Linked DNA regions of Homo sapiens. The protein of the gene in region 4 purifies or fractionates together with the protein of the main gene of each other region. This does not show direct contact. Each region holds a gene or a part of one and is shown on either strand. Other genes may lie near its edges.

Region 1 (4,492 bases), on a different chromosome or scaffold from region 4:
CCGAGATTGCACCATTGCACTCCAGCCTGGGCGAGAGAGCGAGACTCCGTCTCAAAAAAAAAAAAAAAAAGTAAAGTAATAATAATAATAATACTATATTCTTTTTCTTTTTTTTTTGAGACAGAGTCTTGCTCTGTTGCCCAGCCAGGAGTGCATTAGTGTGATCTTGGCTTACTGCAACCTCCACCTTCTGGGTTCGAGTGATTCCTGTGCCTCAGCCTCCTGAATAGCTGGGATTACAGGCATGTGCCACCAGGCCGGGCTAATTTTTGTATTTTTTGTATTATTATTATTTTTTTTTGAGATGGAGTCTTGCTCTGTCACCAGGCTGGAGTGCAGTGACTCGATCTCAGCTTACTGCAACCTCCACCTCCTGGATTCAAGCGATTCTCCTGCCTCAGTCTCCTGAGTAGCTGGGACTACAGGCATGCACCACCATGCCCGGCTAATTTTTGGTAGAGACAGGGTTTCACCATGTTGGCCAGGATAGTCTCAATCTCTTGACCTCGTGATCCGCCCACCTCGGACTCCCAAAGTGCTGGGATTACAGGTGTGAGCCACCACGCTTGGCCATTTTTGTATTTTTGTATTTTTTTTTTTTTTTGAGATGGAGTCTCACTCTGTCAGCCAGGCTGGAGTGCAGTGGCGCAGTCTCAGCTCACTGCAACCTCCACCTCCCGGGTTCAAGCCATTCTCTTGCCTCAGCCTCCTGAGTAGCTGGGATTACAGGTGCCCGCCACCACGCCTGGCTAATTTTTATATTTTTAGTAGAGACGGGGTTTCACCATGTTGGTCAGGCTGGTCTCAAACTCCTGACCTTGTGATCCGCCCGCCTCGGCCTCCCGAAGTGCTGGGATTAAAGGCATGAGCCACTATGCCCGGCCCATTTTTATATTTTTAGTAGAGACGAGGCTTTCGCCATATTGGCCAGACTGGTCTCGAATTCCTGGCCTCAGGTGATGTGCCTGCCTCAGCCTCCCAAAGTGCTCGGATTACAGTTATGAGCTACCATGCCTGGCATTTTTTTCTTTTTAATGCTTTTTTAGTCTACATAAATTACTACCATACGCTAATGTTTAGAAAGCAAATAAATTGAACCAAATCTGGTCACCCAATTAAAAAACAATTTTACTAATAATTCAGGCCAAGCGCGGACCTCCTGGCCTCAAGCAATCCCCCTGCCTCAATCTCCTAAATTGCTGAGATTACAGGTGTGTACCACCATGCCTGGCGAAGAGTTTATGTACTTTAATTCACCTTTTTCTTGCCACTAACAGATGTCCCAGCTAGTGGAATGTATTTCATGACATATGAATGGCTGAAAAATATCTTCACTCCGGAGGGAAAGAGGTGAGGAAAACATAACTTGGAAGCCACTTTCCCCAGTCATGGGTGCGTTGCCCTCTCCTGTGGGTGAATCTGAAAGCAGAAGTAGTTGTTGTTCCTGGCTCCATGTCTGCTTTCCTCTTGTGGCTGCTGAGGTCCAGCTAGCTCTTCTTACTCTGTGCCTCAGCCAGTGGAGCAAATATTTGAAACAGGTGCATGAAACCTTCTCCAAGGAGTGCCAGCAGCACTGGCCTTATACCTCCTCCCTCCAACCAGTTTCTGCCTGTCTGTAACTGCCCTGTCTGCCACAGGCAGGATAGTCTGAATGCCACTCTCACAGCCTTTGTCTAACTGGGGCTGTGGTTGGTGTTATACAGGGTCAGTGAGCTCAGTGCCCCTCGGATCTTGGTGGCTGGGGGCATTGCAGGGATCTTCAACTGGGCTGTGGCAATCCCCCCAGATGTGCTCAAGTCTCGATTCCAGACTGGTGAGTGGAAGGTAGTGGGGTGGACAGGGGGAGAGTGGGTCCCCAGCACTGGCTAATCCTGGGGTGCAAAGCTCATAAGGCCCTAGGGATACTCACTCTCCATGGCAGCACCTAGCATCTGCCTGACCAATATTCTCCCTCACAGTCATTTGCATTCTAGGAACCCTAGATTCATTTTCATGACAGCCTAAACACAAGGTAAGTGTGATAAGAAGTCAAGTCCACTCTTCCTCCCCCACATGAACAGAAGGGCTGTTTCATTCTTCTTCCCTCGTTTCTATTCCCTTGGCACAAGTAATTCAGGCATTTGTGCATTTGTCCCAAGGTGAACTGTTGTCTATGGACTGGTCCCACATGACCTGCAAGGTGTCCTTTCCCTGTGCTAGTCCTGACCCTTCAGGAAGACTTAACTGCTAGTTTCTCCTTCCTGAAGCCTTAAAAATTGGGTTCTGCCCCACAGCACCTCCTGGGAAATATCCTAATGGTTTCAGAGATGTGCTGAGGGAGCTGATCCGGGATGAAGGAGTCACATCCTTGTACAAAGGGTTCAATGCAGTGATGATCCGAGCCTTCCCAGCCAATGCGGTGAGTAGCTGGCAGGGCTGTGCTTTCCCTCTGGGGCTCAGGGCAGGGTGCATGTGGTTTGACTTTTGCTTGTTCCTGGGATAGGACTGGGGTCTCAGTTTTCCCAAAGCCCTATCTTCAGCCAGAGCATTCCTTATTTGCTCCCTTCCTTGAAGCTGTCAGGAGGATTTGCCTTTGGGGATCTCTGAGGTGAGGGGCTTTGATTTCCTGACCTGGCCATTAGAAGTGGGCAGTTGTGAGGCCAGGCATGGTGGCTAGTGCCTGTAATCCCAGCACTTTGGGAGGCTAAGGCAGGTGGATCATCTGAGGTCAGGAGTTTGAGACCAGCTTGGCCAACATGGGGAAACACCGCCTCTACTAAAAATACAAAAATTAGCTGGGCGTGGTGGCGGGTGCCTGTAATCCCAGCTACTCAGGAGGCTGAGGCAGGAGAATTACTTTAACCTGGGAGGCAGAGATTGCAGTGAGCCGAGATTGTACCATTGCACTTCAACCTGGGTGACAAGAGCAAAACTCCATCTCAAAAAAAAAAAAAAAAGAAGTGGGCAGTTGTGGAATATAAATTTTCTTCTCCTCTTAAAAATGAGAGAGTAGAGCTTGCATCCTTGATGTGGAGTGGGTGTGGGGTTAGGGAGGGGCTCTGGTCCTGACAGGGCCAGCAAAGCATAGTGCTTTGAATAGTCTATGAATAGTTATTCCTGCTGGCTTTTTTCTTCCTCCCAATCCCTTCTTAGGCCTGTTTCCTTGGCTTTGAAGTTGCCATGAAGTTCCTTAATTGGGCCACCCCCAACTTGTGAGGCTGAAGGCTGCTCAAGTTCACTTCTGGATGCTGGAAGCTGTCGTTGAGGAGAAGGAGTAGTAAGCAGAACTAAGCAGTCTTGGAGGGCAAGGGGAGGGGAATGGTGAGATCCGAGCCCTGTGCATGGACTTGGTGAGACTGTTGCCTTAATGACATCCTGCACCGTGTATAACTTAGTGTGTCATTTTGAAACTTGAATTCATTCTTATCAATTTAAGGGATCTTAAAAGGATTTGGAAATGGAACAAGTAGCTTCCAGACCAGATACTACCTGTGGCAAGAATGCTGCCTACCAGTTAACTGCTGGTCCTACCACAGTCAAAGTATTCCTCATTAAAGAGAGAATCTCAGGTTCTCACTGGAGGCACTGTGCATATTTTCAACCAGATCACCAGGAGCTGAGATCTTCTTCAGTCCCTAGCCAGGAATACCCATTTGATTTCCAGGGTGCCATCTAATCCTGGGCTGTACATGTGGATATGGACTTGAGGCCCACCTCTGTGTCCAAGTGGATTGAGCATATATGCCTAGGAGGAGATAGACTGTTAATCGTTGGATTTTGATTTTTTTTTTTTATGCCTGCAAATAATCAAAAGTAAAACTGGAGTAGCCTAATTTTCTGGGAGCAGGTGGAGAACTTTCCCTCCTACACAGTGAGGACAGTCCCAGTCTGCTGGGATAAGTGAGAAAGCCCAGGGTGTAGGAAGGCCCTTTTTACATACTCTTTTCTCATGAGAGCTCACTATTTTAACAATAAACAATAAACGTTGTTTCTAATTTTTGCATTGTGTTATATTTTCTTCTTTTGATTCTGGGACATTTCAGCAGGCAGCCTGTAGCCTTGGTGGAGGCTTTCAGGGATCCAGTATTCTTCCCTGGGAACCTTAGGCTGGGGATCCAGCAGGAGGAGGTGGAGGAGGAGGAAGTTTTGGCTGGCTCTGCCTTCTCTGACTGCCCTAGCCCCGGCTGCTCTAGGGAGGGTGTGTGGGGTGGTGTGACCCGACTGGTAATTGTTCACACAGGCCTCAATGCAAGCCTGGCAGACAGGCCCTCCCAAGGCCCAGCCTGCAACCCATCCCTTCATTTATTCCCCTCTCTTCCCTGAGCACCATGGGTGTCTGAGCTAACAGATGGAGAGTCAGTTGTTCTAAAAGGACAAAAGCAATCTCGGGTTTTCATGTGGGCTTTGGAGTTGCTGTGCGATCTGAGGTAGCTAGCTTAACTTTACTAATCAGGCAGATTATGCTATCCAGGTGTGTCCAGAAAAGGTGAGGGAGTTGGAGAGTCATAAGCTA
Region 2 (7,035 bases), on a different chromosome or scaffold from region 4:
AACTTTTCTCATTGTATTAGTTCATTCTCACACTGCTAATAAAAACATACCTGAGACTGGGTAATTTATAAAGGAAAGAGTTTTAATTGACTCACAGTTCCACAGGGCTGGGGAGGCCTCAGGATCCCTGCAATTATGGCCGAAGGGGAAGCAAACCCGTCCTTCTTCTCATGGTGGCAGGAAGGGGAAGGAGTGCCAAGCAAAGGGGGAAGCCCCTTATAAAACCACCAGATGTCATGAGAACTCACTCACTATCTGGAGAACAGCATGGGGGAAACTGCCTGCATGATTCAATTATCTCCACCTGGTCCTGCCCTTGACATGTGGGGATTATTACAATTCTAGGTGAGATTTGGGTGGGGACACAGAGCCAAACAATATGACTCATGAACCTTCCTGCCTTTCTTAGGAGACACTCATCCCAGCTGCACGTGTAACTTGGTAAGGTTTTGAGGTCATTTAGAAGTAGCCAGGTAAATTATTATTGTCATCTACTCAGATTTATCCTGCAGTCTTCAGCCAACGCTGAATGCCATGGTTGGTAGCATTTCCCAAATGGTGGTAGCATCAGTGAAGTCCAAGAACCAGTTCCTGTGCTGATGTTAAGATTCTTGAAGGACTTAAATAGTAGTATGATACAAATGAGTTACAAGATCATTGAAAATTTTTGTCAGCATTAGGGAACTCTATAATCTACTAATTATTATTATTATTATTGCAAATAATTAGTTTAAATCAAATGGCAATTGTCCAGTCCAGATAAATATTGTTTTTACTACTTCTCCCTTTGGAAAGAGATAATATATTGTGTTCTAATCAAGGAGGACTTGGTTAACAAGGAGCTATCTCCCCGCTTATGTGGGGACAGGAAATATATTGCTGTTATGCTTTGGTGCTTCAGGATCTTAAATGGTTGAGACTGTCATTATGACCTTTGATATATGTTAGAAATGCCCAGGAAGCTGTGGAAGGTGGATTGTCTGCAAGATGTGCAGAATATCCTGGTAGTGTCCACATAATGTAAAAGCACAAGTGTTTGAGCTACTTGTGGTTTTTCTTATTTGGAGTGGAGAAGAGTAAAACAATTTTACTTGCACGCACACACACTATACACATACCCAGATGATTGATAGACATACCAGGGGTTTTGTGCTTACTTTGCCTTCAGCCTCTCAGAGACTGATTACGTTTGGAAAATTGAAATAGCCCAACAGGAACCTTACAGAGGATGTTAACCTCAGAAGCTTTTTAGTTTCTTCTTTTGTATTTGTCCTGTATTTACGTCTTTCAGTAAAGTAAAAACTCAGTTATTGACTTGAATTGCTTTGGAAGCATTGAAGTCTTCCACCAAATTGATTCATTACTGTACTAATTCAGTTCATTCCAGTGGTCTGAATCTCCTATTCCATGGTTTAATCATCACTCTGGCTCCTTCTGCATATGAAGCTATTGCATCTTACTGGTCCTACATTGAAGTGTATTGTATCTGTTTGTACAACCGATCATACATTTTAAGTTTTTATATTTCTCCATCTACCTTGTTTCTTCACAGAGCTACAGGCAACCAGCTGCTTTCATCGTCACACAATACCCTCTGCCAAACACTGTAAAAGACTTCTGGAGATTAGTGTATGATTATGGCTGTACCTCCATTGTGATGTTAAACGAAGTCGACTTGTCCCAGGTTAATGGCTATGGATTGCTTTTATGTACTTATATACAACTTAATAGAGTAGTAATGAATTGCTAAAATCTGCTTTATACTCTCCTAACTAGAAAAAATAATACTCTTTTTTTTTTTCTTTCAAAACGTTCATCATTTAGGGCTGCCCTCAGTACTGGCCAGAGGAAGGGATGCTACGATATGGCCCCATCCAAGTGGAATGTATGTCTTGTTCAATGGACTGTGATGTGATCAACCGGATTTTTAGGATATGCAATCTAACAAGAGTAAGTCACTATCGGATCCTTTGAGCTGATCTAGAATAGGTCAGTCATAACCAAGATGTGGTATAATTTTATTCAGACAACAGGGAGACTACAATTAATAAGCACTATATCATCCACCTCAAAGCTAGTAACCATCTTATGCCTTAGTACTCGAATAAAAATACAGGAAAACAGAAATGCTGGAAGCTAGGTTTTTCGGTCAGTCACTAGACTAGCATATTCTCTCAGGAAATACAGATGCACTGGCTCAGTCAAGTTGGACAGCCTAGGCCTGGCCTCTGAGTGTATGTAGACTTATCTTAAGGATGACTGCATGTTTTATTAGTATTGACATCCAGCCCAGAAATGGCATGTGATAAAAAAAATAAGAACATTGCAATAACAATAATGACAGAGAAACTGTACTGCAGGAGGAAAGAGACATGTTGGATCAACCATTATAGAAGGGTTCCATGTCACTGTTCCAAGTTCATTATTGATTATCCTACCTGCAATTTCATCTTCCTAAACGTCTCAACCTATGGCTCTAAGCAGATCTAAAGGTAGAACCAGTGCTGCTACCACCATGCCTTTTCCCAGCAGCAAAGTAGTAACTGTATCGTCTTTCTCTGACTCCTCATTTGCTTTCCACTACATGACAAATTCAATGTGGGTGGGGAAGATCTTAAAAAAAAAAGTGCTAATAAAGCCCGGGCACAGTGCCTCATGCCTGTAATTCCAGCACTTTGGGAGGCCAAGGCGGGCAGATCATAAGGTCAGGAGTTCAAGACCAGCCTGGCAACGTGGTGAAACCCCATCTCTACTAAAAATACAAAAATTAGCTGGACATGGTGGTGGCATGCCTGTAGTCCCAGCTAGTGGGGAGGCTGAGGCAGCAGAATCATTTGAACCCGGGAGGCAGAAGTTGTAGTGAGCTGAGATCACGCCACTGCACCCCAGGCTGTATAGAGCGAGACTTCGTCCCCCAAAAAAAGATATTAATAAAAACAATTTAGATTATGTAACCAAATAACAAGCAGAATTGGAAAAGAAAACATTAGTAACTTTCATGAAATTAAGCTCTTTTTAGAGAGAAACATTACTCTGTTTTTTAAAGCACCAGCTCTGTGGGTATGTATTTTAAGTGTGTGATTAGGATTATCATGTTTCAGTGTCTCTCATATCAAAATGACTACGTGTGTGTCTGGTTAATAAGTCTATATGTATATAACTATGAGCAGGGAATGGAATCATATCGACTCCTATTGCTCATTTCAGTGGAGAAAAAAAGGATAACTTCAATCATCTCATAATATTCATGCATATCTTAGATGTTAATTTAAATGGAATCTCATTATGTCTGCACATCTGTTACATTATGGTTCTAGTAATATTTGAGTTGGAAAAAAACAGAACTGCTGAAGACAGTAAGGCTTGTCTGTTAATTGAGCAGTTTATGTGAAAAATATTCTAGGAACAGGAACTGAAATGTTATATTTTTGTCAGCATATTTATTTATTTGTTTGCTTACTTATTGAACTGCCTCTGTATTTGGTATTCTGGTCCTTATTAGTACATGATTTTTTTTCTGTTCTCACTCTCATCATTTAATATATTTAATATATTTAACTGCATCAAACATTTAACATGTACCAACAAGTTTGTAGAGTACTAAGTAGGGCTTGTAATCTACCAAAAGATGCATGGGCTCTTGCCAATCTGATATGATTTACTCATATATTACATATTCTTCCTGATATTTTTATTTCAAGGTTTAAGGTTTTGATTCATTCTTTCAACACTACTACTTTTGGGGAAGTATTATGCAAAGTTCTACTGATACAGAGTGTAGGAAAAAAAGATTTCCGTGTACTTAAGGAATCTTTATTTTTTTCAGGAAGAAAAGCATTACATGAAAATTGTATAATCCTTTTTGTATAAAAGTGATGCATTTTACAGTGAAAGAGTAAAGAATATAGAGTGTTTAACTGGGTGATCTGACATAACTGTGTGATCAGAGATGACCTCTTTGCGATAGTAGTATTTAAGCCAAAATTTAATGAATCAATAGAAATTAGTTGGGGGTTGATGTAACCCACCATCCTGGTTTGCCCAGGGCAGGAGCTTTCCCAAGACACACAGCCTTCAGTGCTAAGACCAGAGAAGTCCCAGGCCAACCTGGGACAAGTTGGTCATTCTATTTGGGATTGAGAAGACCAAGCAAGGAAGAAGTATTCAAGGCAAAGGGTACATACAGTATATGCAAAGTCCCCAAGGCAAGAAGAGACTTGATATATGGATTAAAAGAAGACAAAGAGAAGGTTGAAGAAGGGGGTGGAGCCAGATCACATAAGTTTTTTTAAGCCATGACAACAATTTGGATTTTATGCTAAGATCATTTGAAAATCATTAAAGCAGGAAATGACAAGATTGTATCTGCAGTTCAAAATAATCATGATGCCTATAGTAAGAATGGACTGGAAGGAGATCAAAGTTTATTCAGGGAGATCAGCTAGGAGGTAATTATCAGAACCTGTGACTAGTAGTGTATTGATGTCAGTGGTGATAAAGAGAAGGCAATGAATCTGAAAGTTATTTAGGAAATGTAATCGTAGTAATGAATTACTGGATACATAGTGCGAGGGAGAAACAGGTATAAAGGATGATTGCCATGTTTCCTGCTGTTGTCACTTAGAATGTTTTTTTACTAGCATGTACATATTGAGGATTTATATCAGCTAGACTCAATCCAGTGTAGATGCCATTTGTATTGTAAATTATATGCACCTTTTACTTTTTAGTAAAAATTGTAGTCCCAGCGTATTTACATAAAAACACTTCCCTCTACAGCCACAGGAAGGTTATCTGATGGTGCAACAGTTTCAGTACCTAGGATGGGCTTCTCATCGAGAAGTGCCTGGATCCAAAAGGTCATTCTTGAAACTGATACTTCAGGTGGAAAAGTGGCAGGAGGAATGCGAGGAAGGGGAAGGCCGGACGATTATCCACTGCCTGTGAGTAGGGCAGCTCAGCCTGTCATTCATGGGGCCTTGGTGCTTATTTTCTCATTTTCAATGTTAAAGACTATCTGGCTTGCATCTTATGGACCTCCCATAGATGTTATTTTTAAACAGTCTTCCTGTCTCATGAGTCTATAATTAACTACTAAGTTTATTTTGTATATTTTCTAAATATTGATTATTATATAGCTATATTATTTAAACTCTTTGGAACACTACTCGTAACAACTTCTGATTTACACAGTTTACAAATATATCAGAATCTCAAAGTCTAGATTGCAGCAATCTATGCCTATAGCATTTTCCTGAGTATAAGCTACTGATCTAATTTCATCCTCAAGTTTTCTCCTCTCTGCCTTGTACACATATAAAGCAAAATTAAGACACAAATGGAAAACAATTAAAACTACAATGTCTTATTTTCCCAAACATATATGATGGTGTGACCTGTGGTCACTTGGTGCTGCTATCTAAAATGCCTTTGCTTTCTTTGCTTTCAGAAATGGTGGCGGGCGAAGTGGCATGTTCTGTGCTATAGGCATCGTTGTTGAAATGGTGAAACGGCAAAATGTTGTCGATGTTTTCCATGCAGTAAAGACACTGAGGAACAGCAAGCCAAACATGGTGGAAGCCCCGGTGAGTCACAGAATCTTAGATTTGGAAGGCATCTTAGAGATTAGTTAGTCATATACCTACTTATTGATTTGACTTCATACACACATAGGGAATCAGATGTGAAAATGAGACGTTGTGGGGACTTTCCTGCCTAATTAATACATTGCTGAGCATCCCCCTCTACCCACAGACACTTAATCACGTATTGCATAAACTGCTAATCATGAAACTATTTTCATTTAATTTGGGAAATTTGTAGGATTTTTTTTCTGTTATAGCCAAAAAATATTTGCTGCAGTAAACTTTGGTAAATGGTCCTATAAGAAGAATAAATCCTATATCAAGGCTGTATGTCTAAGGGATATAGGTTTCATCAGTACCTTAGACACCCAGTATTTTTAAAAGGCAATGAAATTTAGTTTTGTCATTATCTATAATTATTCATTCATTTTCTGATCAAATTGTAAATGGTTAAACTATCATGGTTAAGTTTTCAGCTTTTACCAACTGTAGAGGGCAGTTCATATCATGCTACTTGAGCTTGTCAAGGCTCGTAAAGTCAGAACATAGCTTACAAAATAAGAGCTGATAGGTATGTGTGTGTGTGACAGTTCATCTAGGTGAAGCTGTATGCAGAGTAAGAAAGAAAGTTACACTTATCTAACACATTTTACTTCTAACGAGAGATATCTGTGGGTTACACATATGTATGTGCATGGTGGGATCAGGTTGGGAGCAGCTGTGTAGTGTATGCTCACAGAAAAGTAAACCAGAAAAACCAAGGCATCATTGTTGCTTGCCCTACATTTATCAAGATGATCAGATAACTAGAATGAGCAATTCAATAAACCTTTAAAGTATTTCACCACTTCCTGCTCATGGATTGCTCGCACAAGAGTTGCGTTGCTTCCTGAGACAAAATCTGAAGACTTAGGTTTGTACTGTTTCACTTTTACAAGCGGTACCAGACTTCCACCCTTTCTACAGGTGTCCTCAAACTCCCTACACCACCTCATTTCCCTGGGTTGTTGCAGCTGTCTACACAAGATTACATTGGTTTTGATTGGGGTGCTGGCTATGGAGATGAGAAAGGGGGGATGAATCGGAGGGATTTTTGAGGGAGAACTCTCAGATCGTCTTAGCAACTAAATGAATAGTGGTTATGTCTCTAAACTTTGCGATTTGAAGATTTCTTGATGTAAACTCTGCCTCCATTTTTCAGGTCAAGTCTTAAAATCATCAGTGGGATCATTTCTGACTTCAGAATTCAACTTTTACCTTCAAATTTAACTGATTTCCCACCTTTTTTAATTAAAAAAAAAATCTATGGTTAAACTGTGCCATTCTGGGACCTTCCAAAAAGTTACTATTTTCCTTTACATTCATGTCCCGTGAATCCTGAACACCCCACCCTCTGATTTGTGTTTAATCAGTGTTGATGATTAGTTTAGTGAGCTGTGGAGTTGAGCTG
Region 3 (7,035 bases), on a different chromosome or scaffold from region 4:
ATGTAAAAACACTGAAAAGCAAATCATGATAATAAAAGTAATAGAAAAACACTGAAGGCATTTCTATTAGATTCTAAACAGACAAGGATGCCTACTGCCTCAATTATATAATCTAATTACAAATAACTAAGGAAAGCAGGGAATAATATTAGTATGTAGAAATCAACAGCTTCATATATGCCAACAATGACTCCATTCATAGCAACATAAAACAAAACATCCAGAAATAAACTTAGTAAGAAGTGTCCAAACCTGTATGAAAAAAATTTTAAAACACCCTAGAGGACCCAAAAAGAAACGAGAATACGTATCACGTACATAAAGAGGAATATTTAATGTCATAAAAATGTCCCTATTCCCAAGTTATTTTATAAATTTAATGCAATCCCAATAAAAGTAACAAACTAGTTCTACCTTTTCCCCCTCTGGAACGAGACAAGCTAATCCTAAAATTTACAAAGAAAAATAAACAGGCAAGAATAGCCAGGAAACACTGAAAAGGACGAGCAATTAAGAGACTAGCTATACCACAAAGTAAAACACAATGATAAAGCCTCAATAGTAAAAAGATAAATATTTTCCCTGGTTGTTACACCTGGGCTATAGCAGTGTCCTCAGTCTTTCTGCTCACACCCAGAAACAGACCAAATAAATGTGAGAATTTAGTATATAATCAAAGTGGCATCCTAAAAATAGTAAACATAAGACCTTTTTTTAATGTGTGTGAGATGGAGTTTGGCTCTTGTTGCCCAGGCTGCAGTGCAGTGGCACAATCTCAGCTCACTGCAACCTCCGCCCTCCTATGTTCAAGCGATTCTCCTGTCTCAGCCTCCGAATAGCTGGGATTCAGGCATGTGCCACCACACCCAGCTAATGTTTTGTATTTTTAGTAGAGACAGGGTTTCTCCATATTGGCCAGGCTGGTCTCGAACTCCTGACCTCAAGTGATCCACCCACCTTGGCCTTGCAAAGTGCTGGGATTGCAGGCGTGAGCCACCGTGCCCAGCCAGGTAAGACCTTTTAATAAATGATGTCAAAGAACGTGGTAGCCAATTGGAAAAAGGTAAAGCTGGATGCATATCTGATAGCATACACCAGGATAAAATCTAAATGGATTATAAATTAAAATAAAAACAAAATCTTAAAAAAACTATTGCTCTGACTTGGGAAGCCAAGGTAGCAGGATCACTTGGGCCCAGGAGTTTGAGACCAGCCTGGGCAACACAGGGAGATCTTATCTCTACAATTTTTTTTTTTTTAAATTAGCGAGGATATGAAGGCTGCAGTCAGCTGTGATCACGCCACTGCACCCCAGCCTGGGTGACAGATCAAGATCCAACTCTAAAACAATCAAACAACAAAAAACTGTAACTTTATAAGAATTTGAAAATATCGGTGAAACTTAAGAGTGGAAAAGTCTGATAACCATAAAAGACTGATGAATCAGCCACGCGCGGTGGCTCACGCCTGTAATCCCAGCACTTTGGAGGGCCGAGGCGGGCGGATCACGAGGTCAGGAGATCGAGACCATCCTGGCTAACATGGTGAAACCCCGTCTCTACTAAAAATACGAAAAAATTAACCAGGCGTGGTGGCATGCGCCTGTAGTCCCAGCTACTTGGGAGGCTGAGGCAGGAGAATGGCGTGAACCCGGGAGGCGGAGCTTGCAGTGAGCCGAAATCGCACCACTGCATTCCAGCCTGGGGGACGGAGAGATACTCCATCTCAAAAAGAAAAAAATGTAACTAGATTTTTTTTTTTTTTTGAGACGGAGTCTCACTCTGTTGCCCAGGCTAAAGTGCAGTGGTGTGATCTCGTGCACCACAATGACTGGCTAAATTTTTTGTATTTTTAGTAGAGACGGGGTTTCACCATGTTGACCGGGCTAGTCTCAAACTCCTGACCTCAAGTGATCTACCCGCCTCAGCCTCCCAAAGTGCTGGGATTACAGGCGTGAGCCATCGCGCCCAGCCAAAAGTTTTGAAAATAAAAAGAAAACCATAGCAGCATGGTGGTGCACTGCCTGTAGTCCCCGCTACTTGGGAGTCTGAGACTTGCTTGGGCCCAGGGGTTCAAGGCCAGCCTGTGCAACACAGTGAGACTGTGCCTCTAAAAAATACATGAATAAAAAGGTCTTTGGTGTGGTGCGGGGATGTCTCTGTGCTCACCAACCACAGGGGGCTCATTCTAAGCACGGCTATGTAAAAAAAGAAACTATTATTACTAAATTAAAACAAAACCTCTTATTTCTGCAAGATTAAAAAAAAAAGAAACCACTGTGAACAATGTCCAAATGCAAATGAAAACTTCAAAAAAAAAAAAAAAAAAAGCCACCACTCATTTCATACAGGGCTAACCTTTCTAATTTATAAACAGCTCCTCTAAGGAGAAGACACCCCATAGAAAAATGGTGAAAAGGATATGAATAGACAGTTCCTAGATTAATACATACAGGCCTTTAAACATATAAAAAAAAATTCTCATTCATAAGAAGGGATGTAAATGAAACCTACACTGAAGTTCAGATTGTCTCTTATGTCCCTAGCGAAATACCAAATATTCGACACTACACTCATGGTGAGTTTAAGGGGAAGACGCTCTCGCACATGGCTTGTGGGAGTGTAAGTACTTACCCACTGGGCAGCGCCATTTGTATTAATAGCAGTCTAGTTTAGAGCTACTCCTGTGTCAGTATAAAATGGCGCACATAAAAAAATTATTCATTACTGCATTGTTAGCAACAGCAGAAGACTGGAAACAATCCAAATGCTCAACAACGGGATTAACTGAATCAACCATGGTGCATCCAAATAATGACATCTTATTTATACAGCAGCTGAAAAAAAAATTTCTTTTAAAGATTATGATTAAGAAGGAACACCTTGGCTGGGTGCAGTGGCTCACACTTGTAATCCCAACACTTTGGGAAGCCAAGAGAGGAGGACTGCTTGAGCTCAGGAGTTCGAGACCAATCTGGGAAACAGTGAGACCTCATCTCTACAAAAAGTAAAAAAGCCAGGTGTGGTGGAGTGTGCCTGTGGTCCCAGCTACACAGGCGGCTGAGGCAGGAAGATCACTTCAGCCCAGCAGTTGGAGGCTGCAGTATGCCATGTTAACACCATTGCACACCAGCTTGGGTGACAGAGCGAGACTATTTCAAAAAAAAAAAAAAAAAAAAAAGAAAGAAAAAAGGAAGGGCTATCTCTAGGACATACTGTTATTAAAGAAAGTGAGATATAGGGAGGTGCATGTGGTATGCTATCTTTTATGTAAGGTGGAGGGAAACAGGAGTGAAGAGAAATATATAATAGTGACAGAACAAAAAACAAAAAACCCACTTGAAGGATAAACAAGAAGCAAACAAAAAAAAACAAGACATGTTTACATAAGACAAAGAAGAATGTGACTGGGGGAAGGGAGCAGAATGAGATATCTCTGTGAGATAGATCTTTGTTGAATCACAGAAATGCATTACTTACTTCAATAGTAATCAAATTCATTTTTTAAAAAGTAGTGCCTTGGCCAGGCACGGTGGCTCAAGCCTGTAATCCCAGTACTTTGGGAGGCTGATGCGGGTGGATCACGAGGTCAGGAGATCAAGATCATCCTGGCTAACATGGTGAAACCTCGTCTCTACTAAAAATACAAAAAATTAGCCGGGCGTGGTGGCTGACACCTATAGTCCCAGCTACTCGGGAGGCTGAGGCAGAAGAATGGCGTGAACCCGGGAGGCGGAGCTTGCAGTGAGCCGAGATTGCGCCACTGCACTCCAGCCTAGGGGACAGAGTGAGACTCCGTCTCAAAAAAAAAAAAAAAAAAAAAAGCAGTCCCTTAACCTGAAAACAACAAATGAACCCAACTGTATGTTAATTTAGTAACATAATTCCTCAGAAAAACGATTTCAAATGACTTTAGAACAGAGTTCTTTGACTACATACATCTTTAGTGAGATGCATTTTAAAAGCTGGGCTCAGTGGCTCATGCCTGAAATCCCAGCACTTTGGGAGGCCAAGACGAGTAGGAAGTCAGGAGTTCGAGACCAGCCTGGCCAACATGGTGAAACGCTGTCTCTACTAGAAATACAAAAATTAGCTAGGCGTCATGGTGGGCACCTGTAATCCCAGCTACTCAGGAGGCTGAGGCAGGAGAATCGCTGGAACTGGGGAGGCAGATGTTGCAAGTGAGCCAAGATCACACCACTGCACTCTGCCCTGGGCAAAAGAGTAAGACAACATCTCAAAAAAAAAAAAAAGATGCATTTTAAGAACAAAAATAGTTACATATATTAAAGAAAGAATTTTTTAACATGATACAGTATGTTTATGGTTACTACTAGTATCAGCATTGTTACTGAAACCATTTTCTTTATATTGCAGGATAAAGCAAACAAAATAAGTACTTATAACTTGTTTCATATTTTTTACTATAAAATACAACTAGGAGGCCGGGCGCCGTGGCTCACGCCTGTAATCCCAGCGCTTTGGGAGGCCAAGGTGGGCAGATCACCTGAGGTTAGGAGATCGAGACCATCCTGGCTAACACGGTGAAACCCCATCTCTACTAAAAATACAAAAACTTAGCTGGGCGTGGTGGCATGCACCTGTAGTCCCAGCTACTCGGGAGGCTGAAGCAGGAGAATCACTTGAACCCAGGAGGCGGAGATTGCAGTGAGCTGAGATCGTGCCACTGCACTCCAGCCTGGGCGACAGAGCAAGACTCCGTCTCAAAAATAAAATAAAATTAAATTAAAAAAAAGAACTAGGAGCTAAGAAATTAGGTAAAAATACTATACCATTTAAAGTGAATTAGAAATACGAATATGGACTCATGATTTTTAAAAATACATTAAAAATGTATTTTTTAAATGCTCTGCAATTTAAAATGGCCTTAAAACAATGTTACCCCTGGGCAATGAGCACACCCTTGATCTTGTCTCTAATACCATTCTCCAATAAAAGGAACCAGAGCTCCTTGGAGAAATGGTCAATTCCAAGTCTGGGAGGAAGATACAAGCCTGCAGTGCAGGAAAACTTTCCAAGATCAATGATGTCAGCCAAAATGAGACAAGAATGACCTGAAGGGGTATCCACTGGCATCAAAAAGTGCAGCTGATTCTAGAACACGCTAAATATACACAACTTTAGGATGATGTTTAAGAAAGAAAAAGCCAGGGGGAAAAAAAGATACAATTTGATGTAACAATGAAACAAATGTAAAAGGAATGAAAAGACAAGAGAAATTAAGACTATACTTCCAGGGATCATTTCTAGTTTGTTCCCAGAAGTTTCTCTTAACGTATAGACTACTACATTTTTACACAAAACAAACAAACAACAACAACAAAAAAAACAGAAAATCATCACTTTACAATACCTGTAGAAATTTACTCATCCAGCCAAGAATTATGTATTGGTTTTAAAACCATCCACTAAATGACTGATGGAGAATGAACCAAAGTAAACATAACATTTTGGTCAAAGGGAAGTAACAATCACCAGCCATCTGGTATATCTCTCCTAATGGTATGCAATTTGAAGTATGTAAGATCACCTCTGATGTATTCTGGCCAAAAATCAATCACAATTAGAATTAAAAAAAAAATCATCAGAGATTCTGAATTAGAACCATGCAAAAGTAATCATAGAAATCAAAGAACAAATCTTCCAAAGGAGCGGATAATGATGACTTTCTAAAGATAAACATAACTCAAACACAGAAATCTAACTTCCAGCCTGGGCAACATAGTAAGACTCCATCTCTACAAAAAAAGGTTTAAAAATTAGCAGGTCGTGGTGGCACACACCTGTAGTCCCAACCACTGCGGGGGTGGGGCTGAGGTGGGAGGATCTCTTCAGCCCAGGAGGTGGAGGCTGCAATGAGATGTGATCGCACCAGTGCACCCAGCCTGAGCCAGAGTGAGACCCCATCTCAAAAATCAAAAAACAAACCTAACTTCCTGATTCCAGTTAAAAAAGGAAATATCCACAGAAAATTTTAAGTGGCCAGGCGCAGTGGCTCACGCCTGTAATCCCAGCACTTTGGGAGGCCGAGGTGGGCGGATCACGAGGTCAGGAGATGGAGACCATCCTGGCTAACACGGTGAAATCCCGTCTCTACTAAAAATACAAAAAATTAGCCGGACGTGGTGGTGGGCGCCCGTAGTCCCAGCTACTTGGGAGGCTAAGGCTGGAGAATGGCGTGAACCTGGGAGGTGAAGCTTGCAGTGAGCCAAGATAGCACCACTGCACTCCAGCCTGGGCGACAAACCGAGACTCTGTCCCCCCCTCCACCAAAAAAAAAGAAAATTTTAAGTAAAAAAATTAAAATATAGAAATATTAGGCCGGGCGCAGTGGCTCACGCCTGTAATGCCAGGACTTTGGGAGGCTGAGGCAGGTGGATCACAAGGTCAGGAGATCCAGACCATCCTGGCTAACGCGGTGAAACCCCATCTCTACTAAAAATACAAAAACAAAATTAGCCAGGCGTGGTGGCTGGCACCTGTAGTCCCAGCTACTCAGGAGGCTGAGGCGGGAGAATGGCATGAACCAGGGAGGCAGAGCCTGCAGTGAGCCGAGATCAGGCCACTGCACTGCAGCCTGGGCGACAGTGAGACTCCATCAAAAAAAAAAAAGAAATATTAATAACAAAAGTGCATCTACATATCTTATTCTTTCAGAAATTCCTACCAGACACAGGACTATAATATTTTCTGAGGAAGCATTTTTTTTGCAGCTAGTAATAAAAAGTACTAGTATTTAACATTAATCAAGTACTTACTACACACTGGGGACTATTCTTAGAACTTTACATGTATTAACTTCTGGAGCTACACAACCACCCTTTGAATCAAATATTGCTATTATTTCTATACTATGAAATGAGCAACTGAGGCCCAAGGTTTAAGTACCTACCTGAGGTCCCCAAGGTAAAAAGTGGCAGAGGAAGGAGTTAACACAGGAAGTCTGGCTCCTTGGCCTATGTCTTCCTTTAATTTAAAAAAAAAAAAAAAAAAATTAGCTCATGCCTGTAATCCC
Region 4 (7,035 bases):
TATACCAAGATAACACTCCAGGCCCATTGTAAGAATGTGTTTCAAGTTATTTCCTGGGCTACCTTGACTTATCTCTCTTCTCTGATTACAGAGTAAGTGATATTGTTATACCGTCATACAAACCTAGGTTCAAATTTGGTCTCTGCCACCTAGAGCTAGCCGGAGTTCTCCAAATAAGCACTTTACATCAGATTCCACTAAGGTGAAACTGGTAGTTCACCAATGGCACTACTTTGTAAGGATTAAACAAGATAACATTGCAAAGCATATAATATGCTGACCAGTGTGTGGGACGTGGAAGTCACGTGATATTGGTAAATGAAGATGAGGATGAGGATAAGAATGGCAGTGGCAGTGTGTGTGACGGTGGTAGTGGCTGTTGACTTTAGGACCTTCAGTGGCAGTTATAAAATGTGACACAACTAACCAGGAAACTTAAAATTGCATGGACACATTAACAACCTGCTCTAAGCAGCAAAACAAATGGCTCATAGACCAATCAAACCTCCTCAGAATAGAATGTTCCTAGAAAATACAGATTTCAGAAAATAGATTTCCACAATTTTCCTTAGGCACCCACAAGAGCTTTCTGCAGCTAATAAAGTCCCCCTCATTCTTAAAAGAAACCAGGGCGTGTAAAGTGTAATGTTTTTCGTAAATGCAGCAGTTTTACTTACAAAGTATAAGGATGTGTTCTTTCCTGCCTGTTTTCCAGAAAGGAGCCTGAGGAGCTGGGGATGTATTCTACCCAGAAATAAGTAGCATATATCTGAAGCCATATCTCAGGATGCCTGAAAGCTCTTAATAAGCTCCTGGTGGTGATTTCTGCAGCCCCCAGAGTATGAAGCTTCCCAAGGGCTCATTCTACTTCATGGCTTTCTTCTCCTTCTACTTCATGTTCTTTTATAGTTTCCATGAAGGGACTGCTGTTACAGGTCTTTGATCTTATGTGTTGTTAAAATTTTCTTAAAAGTAAATTTGTGAGTAACCACACCCTCCCAAAAAAACCCACCAGATCGCCCCTCATCTTCACACCACTCCCACACCCAACTGATAAACTTATCTTCCTCCTATATTATTTAGGTGAATTTTATATATTTTTAGAAACCCCTCTGCTTGTGCTTCACTCTATGCCCCCCAAAAATCTTCATTTATTCTTTCATGGAACATTTGAAGTATCTTTCATATTCTAGGACTTTGTACTGGTAATACAGAGAATAAAACAGAGTCTTTTCCCTCCAGAGCTCCTTGGAGGGAACCACCTGTGGAAACAGACATAAAACTCAGTGTTTACAATGAGGGATATTTACGATGACAGTACAGAAGAGTTGTGTTTATCCTGAAGGAAACTCAGAACCAGGTCTGTCAGGAGACAATGGAGCACAGAGTGTAGGAAGAACAGAAGGTGACTAATAACAGACTCAGCTCACTTGGAACCCTGGGTGCCAGTGTGGGGGAGAGATGAAGCTAAATAGGGAGACAGGATCTATGTTAGGCATGAAGATCTTTTATGCATCCTAAGTCATTTGAATCTAAATAACATAATACAAATAACACAGCATGGAACTTAGTCTTTCCTCTTCCCTAGAAAAATGCATTTTTACAGCTCCACGTGAAGCAGCTGAGGAAGTCAGGCACCTAATTTGAGAATCCCTAATATATTGCAGTTTTCTGCTTGGTTTCAATATCAACCTGAATGGTACAAACATCACATTTTCCCCCTAAACTCTGATATATCCGTTTATAGAAATGTCAATTTAGAAGACATTCTCAAACAGAACCTCAACACCCTATCGCCTACTCTTTCAAAGTCTACTTCAGATTAACCAGACTACTATTTTCAGCATTAGTTCTCACAGTTTTAAACAACCATTGTTTCAGATGGACTATAAATAAAAGCAAAATGTATAGACCATAGTATTGGATGTTGTTGAATTCAGAGTGTAACATAGATAGTAGGGAAAAATAAGAGATATAAGCTGTAAGATTAAAAGAAAAAAAAACTTAGAAATAAGAAAAAATATAAAGTATTACTTTATAAAGAGAGAAAATAAATATACTTCAAAGTGGATTTTATTAAGGTACGTATAACTATACTATACAAGATTATCTGTAATTGACACTTCATAAATTACATTATTAAAGCATGAATCAAAATTGTTACTTTCACAATAACATTCTTAGTACATCTATTTTAAGATACACCCAAAAATGTGGTTGCTCCAACTTCAAAATTATTTTTGAAAACTTTTCCTATCCATATGAAATTTAAATAACTTATGTTTATGCTTTCATTGCTTAGAAATGAGTGCATATTATATTTTCTCTATTAAACAGTAAATTTCTAGGAGCTATATTTTTCTTATTAAGTCAAGTATTTCCTGGGCTGGTTGTTTTTCCATTGGTTCAGGCTTCTACTGGGAGAAAGAGAGACCGCCATCTATGACTACTCTTAGCATGTGGTATAATGTTTTGTACACAGTTTGTAAGTAAAAACTGATTAAAATATTGTTTGAATTTAGATATGTTTAGTCAGATTTAAACACCTTAAGAATGAAGGCTGTGCCTTCCCCATTCACTGTTTTATCCCTAGTACCTCCCTTCCACAGTGTTTGCCAAAATGAAGATGCTCAAAATATGTCAGTATATATGTGAAGTTATATAAAAATAAATTTAATTCAATAAGCATACATTAAGTAGCTATTATTAATAAAGCACTGCACTTGTATCTGTGCGAGATACATCAATTCCCAAAGTCCAATGCCCATTTTCAAAAAGTTTCAGATCAGTAGGGGAAGAGAAATCTGACTCCCTGTAAGACAAAGATTTATTAACAGCACCTGAAAGAATAATAAATGGAACAATCAGGAAAAGAAAGAGGTGGGTATGTCAGTCAGAGAGAGCAAAATAATCACAGACTTAGAGGCAATATATTCCTGGTGTTTTTCAGAAATATATATAATTCATCAAAGTGGATAGACCCCAGAAAAGTGTTACTCTTTCATACATGATAATCCGTAAATGTCTTGTTAAAATGCAAATTTGTGGGTTCCATTTCAAGGGCTTCTGTTTAAGTAGCTCTGGAGCGGAATTGAGGAATCTGCACTTTAAACGGAAGTGTCAAGTGGTTTGGATGCACAGATGCTGGACCACATTGAGAAAAGTGATAGATGCAAGTAGAAAGTGGATGTCATCTTATGAGTGTATTCAGTGGGTTGCATGAGGCCAGATCTGTGAAGACCCACTGGAATGAAGATCTTATGTAAGATGAAGAACTAAAAAAGTTTTGTTTTGTGGGAAGGTATTAAGTGGAAATTACTTCATTATCCAAAAAGAAAAAGAAACCCTCATTATTGAACATTTATAAAATGCAAGAAAGTGTAAAGAATATGTCAGCAAAACAATATCCAGCTATCAAATATAAGCTGTTGTAATGTTTGGGATATGTCTATTTATACTTTTTAATGTGCATTTACACATATTCACATGAAATATATACACAAGTAAGTACTTTGTATACTAACCTATATTTTTTAACAAAATGTAATTTATATTTGTATCAGTATTTAACTTGTTGCATTGTATTTTATGTTTTATTAGGTCAGTACCCTAAAGTAATTATTTAAGCAGTTTCCACATGTTCATTGCAATGTATAATGAATGATGTGTTGAACATCACAATATATCTTTACATTCTTGCCCATTTTTCTTCTTTAGACATATATTTAGACAATGGACCCCCAGATCTTCTACTATTAAAATACAAATGCATTTACCAAGGTGACCTCAAGTACTCTTTTAAGAATTAGGAAAGTAGTCCTTTTATTAATACTTCTTGCTTATTGTGCTTATTCATATTCTTCAGCCATTTACAATCTGTCTGGTGGAATAATGAATCATCACAAATAAACTGTAAGAATTACTAAAACCTAGACTTTGCCTACTGATCTACGTTACATGAGATCTACTTTGGATAGCTACATGCTCTAGAGGTGGTGAGACTCCTAAACTCCAAGTATGACTTTACTTGTGCATGCTTTCAGACATATTTTAACTGTGGTCCTATACTGTGCTAGGTTCAGTATTCATGAAAGGATCAGAAGTACCGACATAATCTCTGCCCTTAAATAACTCACCATTTAGAACTGTGTAAATGGTAAGTTAGTGGATCATCAGAATAGAAAGAAAGCATGTTGAAACCAGCTGTTTCAATAAACAACAGTAACTCACAGTACTGAATGATCAAACATGGGTCAGGGAAGACTTGGTAAAGAAGGAGTACACTCAAACTTCCCTAAATTAGCTTAGAAAGAAATGCTTTGAGCACAGCCTTGCGAATTTACTTGGTCTTTACACTGTAGATTATGGGATTCATTACAGGAGGGATAAGCAGATAAACATTGGCAATGAGCATGTGCACAAGGGGAGGGGCATGCTTTCCAAATCTGTGCACTGGTGACAAACTGATCATGGGGATGTAGAAGATGGCAACTGCACTGATGTGAGAGACACAGGTACCAAAAGCCTTTTTCTGCTCCTCTGGGGAGGCAATGCAGAGCACAGAGCGGACGATCAGAACATAGGAGATGAGGATCAAGACAGAGTCTAAGCCAGCAGTAGAGATAACAATGGCCAGGCCAAATGCACTGTTGATCCATGTGTCTGTGCATGAGAGCTTCATCGCATCAGGGTGGAAGCAGTAGGAATGGTGGAGCACATGACTACGGCAGAAGGAGAGGCGCTTAAGGAGCAGGAGTAGAGGCACTAGAGCTGTTGTTCCCCTAAGAACAATTGCAAAGCCCACTTTAATAATCCGTGAATTGGTTAAGATTGTGGCATATCTCAGTGGGTTACAGACGGCAATAAAGCGGTCAAAGGCCATTGCCAAAAGTACTGAGGACTCCATGAATGTGAAGCCATGGATAAAGAACATTTGGCCAATGCAGGCATCAAAACTGATTTCTCGAGCATTGAACCAGAAAATACCCAGCATGGTGGTCAATGTAGAAAGACACAGACCTAGGTCCATGAAGGATAGCATGGAGAGAAAATGATACATGGGTTCATGGAGGCTTGACTCAGTGATGATGACAAACAGGATCATGCCATTCCCAGAGATAGCAATGACATAGAGACAACAGAATGGGATGGAGGTCCAGATCTGACGGGTTTCAAGGCCAGGGATGCCAGTAAGGAAGAAGACTGCAGGGTGGAAAATACTCTGGTTGAAGGATGGCATGATGAGCGAAGAAGCAGATGTCTTTGAGGAAAAGAACTATGTCCTGTAATAATGGAGAAGAAAAGCATTTTCACTTTCTTCTATACACCATACAATTTGTGATCACTAGAGAACCACATCCTATTCTTCAATGAAAATGCATAGCCACTTACTGTTTTCTTATATGTGTTCTTGAATGAACTAGGAGAGGACACAGACACTAAATTGTGTAAAGAAACCTGGTTTTTAGCAAGATTCCCATTATATTACATCTAGGCTTCAGGATACTTATATATACATATATAAAACAGGAGATTAGTTTCAATAATAGAAAATGTTTCCCATTTCTATGACTGTATGTACACGGGCAGATGGGATATTTCCGGACAGCCATAAGAAACACAACAGGAAATTCACCCTGCTTTTCTTCACTTCTCAGTTTCTGCGGCAAAAACCCTAAGGTGCATTAAAGTTTATAAGTCCATGTGACCCAATGAAAGTAAGAGAATAAGATAATATTAAACATTTTCTAGTAAAATACTCCTGATCAAATGAATACACAATAGCTGTTGAGTGAAAAAAATAAATAAATAAAACTAAGTACCAGGAAAGAAACAATTAAATCTAAATGGACCACAGTGGGTGACAGTAGAAAAAAGGTTTGTTTATACATGTAATAATTGAGAAGTTGATTATGTTCAAAGGATATTCTGCCTGAAAAAAGATGGCTTAAATAACCTTAACAAGAACAAAGGAATTCATTGGAAAGTCATGGATAATAACTGGAGTATTTACCTGAGCAAGTTTCTTGATTTTCCATTTCTGCAAAAGGGCATTGAGAATAGATTGGCTGGGGGAAGGAGGTTTTCTCTGGAGATCTAAGTGTATGCTCACCCAGATCCATAAATCTGTAGGATTGAAAATGTTTCTGTATATTGCTTCTTGTCTTAAGTTTTCTGACACTGTTTTTATCTATAGAAAGAATGTTTGGTTTTTAACATATTTATGTTCCCCTTTTACTTACTCATGCATGTATTTACTCAAAAAAATTAAATACCTACAGTGTTAGTGTGTGCATTAGAATTAGACTTGCTACTTTAAGAAGGTCTGACCCTGAGAAAGAAAATATTTGAGTATAGGTTAACTTAGTTATCTTCATTGCAACCCCCCGAATGAAAAGACAGGAGCTTAGACATCAGTAAGAATAACTGGTTACAGGAAGTGTGTTCAAGAGGGCATTTCTCTAGGTATTTGAGAAGAAGGAAAAATGTTCAATACAGGAAGCCTCTTTGAGTTCTCACACACACGCAAAGAAAGATAGTGGCTGGAAATTTTGAATTGAGAGGCAATGCAAGACAAAACAAAAGCTATGGATCTTCGAGTCAAGCCTTGGATCTCAGTTGGAAGATAAGCTTCACTTTTTCACCTGTGACTTTACATACGAGAATCGGGACATGTACCTACTTCTGCATCCTAGGGAAAATGACTCCTGCCCTGATAATAGGGCTTGAGAGTTGTGAAACTAATGTCTATGGTTGAAGTCACAGGATCAGTGAAAAATATCTTAGAGTAATAAATCTAAGGGAAATGAAGTCTGAGGACAGAGTGCTGGGGAACAGCAGTATTTAAAGAAAAGACCAGAAGAAGCGTCCTCTAATGAAACTGAGGAGACATGGCCACTAAGGCAAAAATGACTCCCAGGAAAATATAAGGACCATTTTTTCTCAGACCTACGATCTCAGAGCCAGAAAAAATGGCTAGCACAACAGCATCTAAAAGTATCTATTAAATGAATGAATGAACTGCTTCTGAAAATA

The links.
Region 1: the proteins of MMP26 (region 4) and SLC25A20 purify together in Homo sapiens (affinity purification with mass spectrometry; 2 studies listed by BioGRID and IntAct, with this or other methods). This does not show direct contact.
Region 2: the proteins of MMP26 (region 4) and PTPRK purify together in Homo sapiens (affinity purification with mass spectrometry; 2 studies listed by BioGRID and IntAct, with this or other methods). This does not show direct contact.
Region 3: the proteins of MMP26 (region 4) and ZNF146 purify together in Homo sapiens (affinity purification with mass spectrometry; 2 studies listed by BioGRID and IntAct, with this or other methods). This does not show direct contact.

The regions. Positions count from the first base shown.
Region 1 is NC_000003.12:48,856,413-48,860,904, reverse strand, and holds the end of SLC25A20 (mitochondrial carnitine/acylcarnitine carrier protein), read left to right. Parts: intron 1-1,277; coding exon 1,278-1,350; intron 1,351-1,703; coding exon 1,704-1,813; intron 1,814-2,273; coding exon 2,274-2,398; intron 2,399-3,132; coding exon 3,133-3,195; 3' UTR 3,196-3,979; downstream 3,980-4,492. UniProt on the Homo sapiens protein: Mediates the electroneutral exchange of acylcarnitines (O-acyl-(R)-carnitine or L-acylcarnitine) of different acyl chain lengths (ranging from O-acetyl-(R)-carnitine to long-chain O-acyl-(R)-carnitines) with free carnitine ((R)-carnitine or L-carnitine) across the mitochondrial inner membrane, via a ping-pong mechanism.
Region 2 is NC_000006.12:127,971,572-127,978,606, reverse strand, and holds part of PTPRK (receptor-type tyrosine-protein phosphatase kappa isoform b precursor), read left to right. Parts: intron 1-1,552; coding exon 1,553-1,684; intron 1,685-1,824; coding exon 1,825-1,950; intron 1,951-4,779; coding exon 4,780-4,943; intron 4,944-5,449; coding exon 5,450-5,585; intron 5,586-7,035. UniProt on the Homo sapiens protein: Regulation of processes involving cell contact and adhesion such as growth control, tumor invasion, and metastasis. Negative regulator of EGFR signaling pathway. Forms complexes with beta-catenin and gamma-catenin/plakoglobin.
Region 3 is NC_000019.10:36,218,073-36,225,107, reverse strand, and holds part of ZNF146 (zinc finger protein OZF), read right to left. Parts: intron 6,987-7,035; 5' UTR 6,913-6,986; intron 1-6,912.
Region 4 is NC_000011.10:4,707,773-4,714,807, reverse strand, and holds part of MMP26 (matrix metalloproteinase-26 isoform 1 preproprotein), read right to left. Parts: intron 1-7,035. UniProt on the Homo sapiens protein: May hydrolyze collagen type IV, fibronectin, fibrinogen, beta-casein, type I gelatin and alpha-1 proteinase inhibitor. Is also able to activate progelatinase B.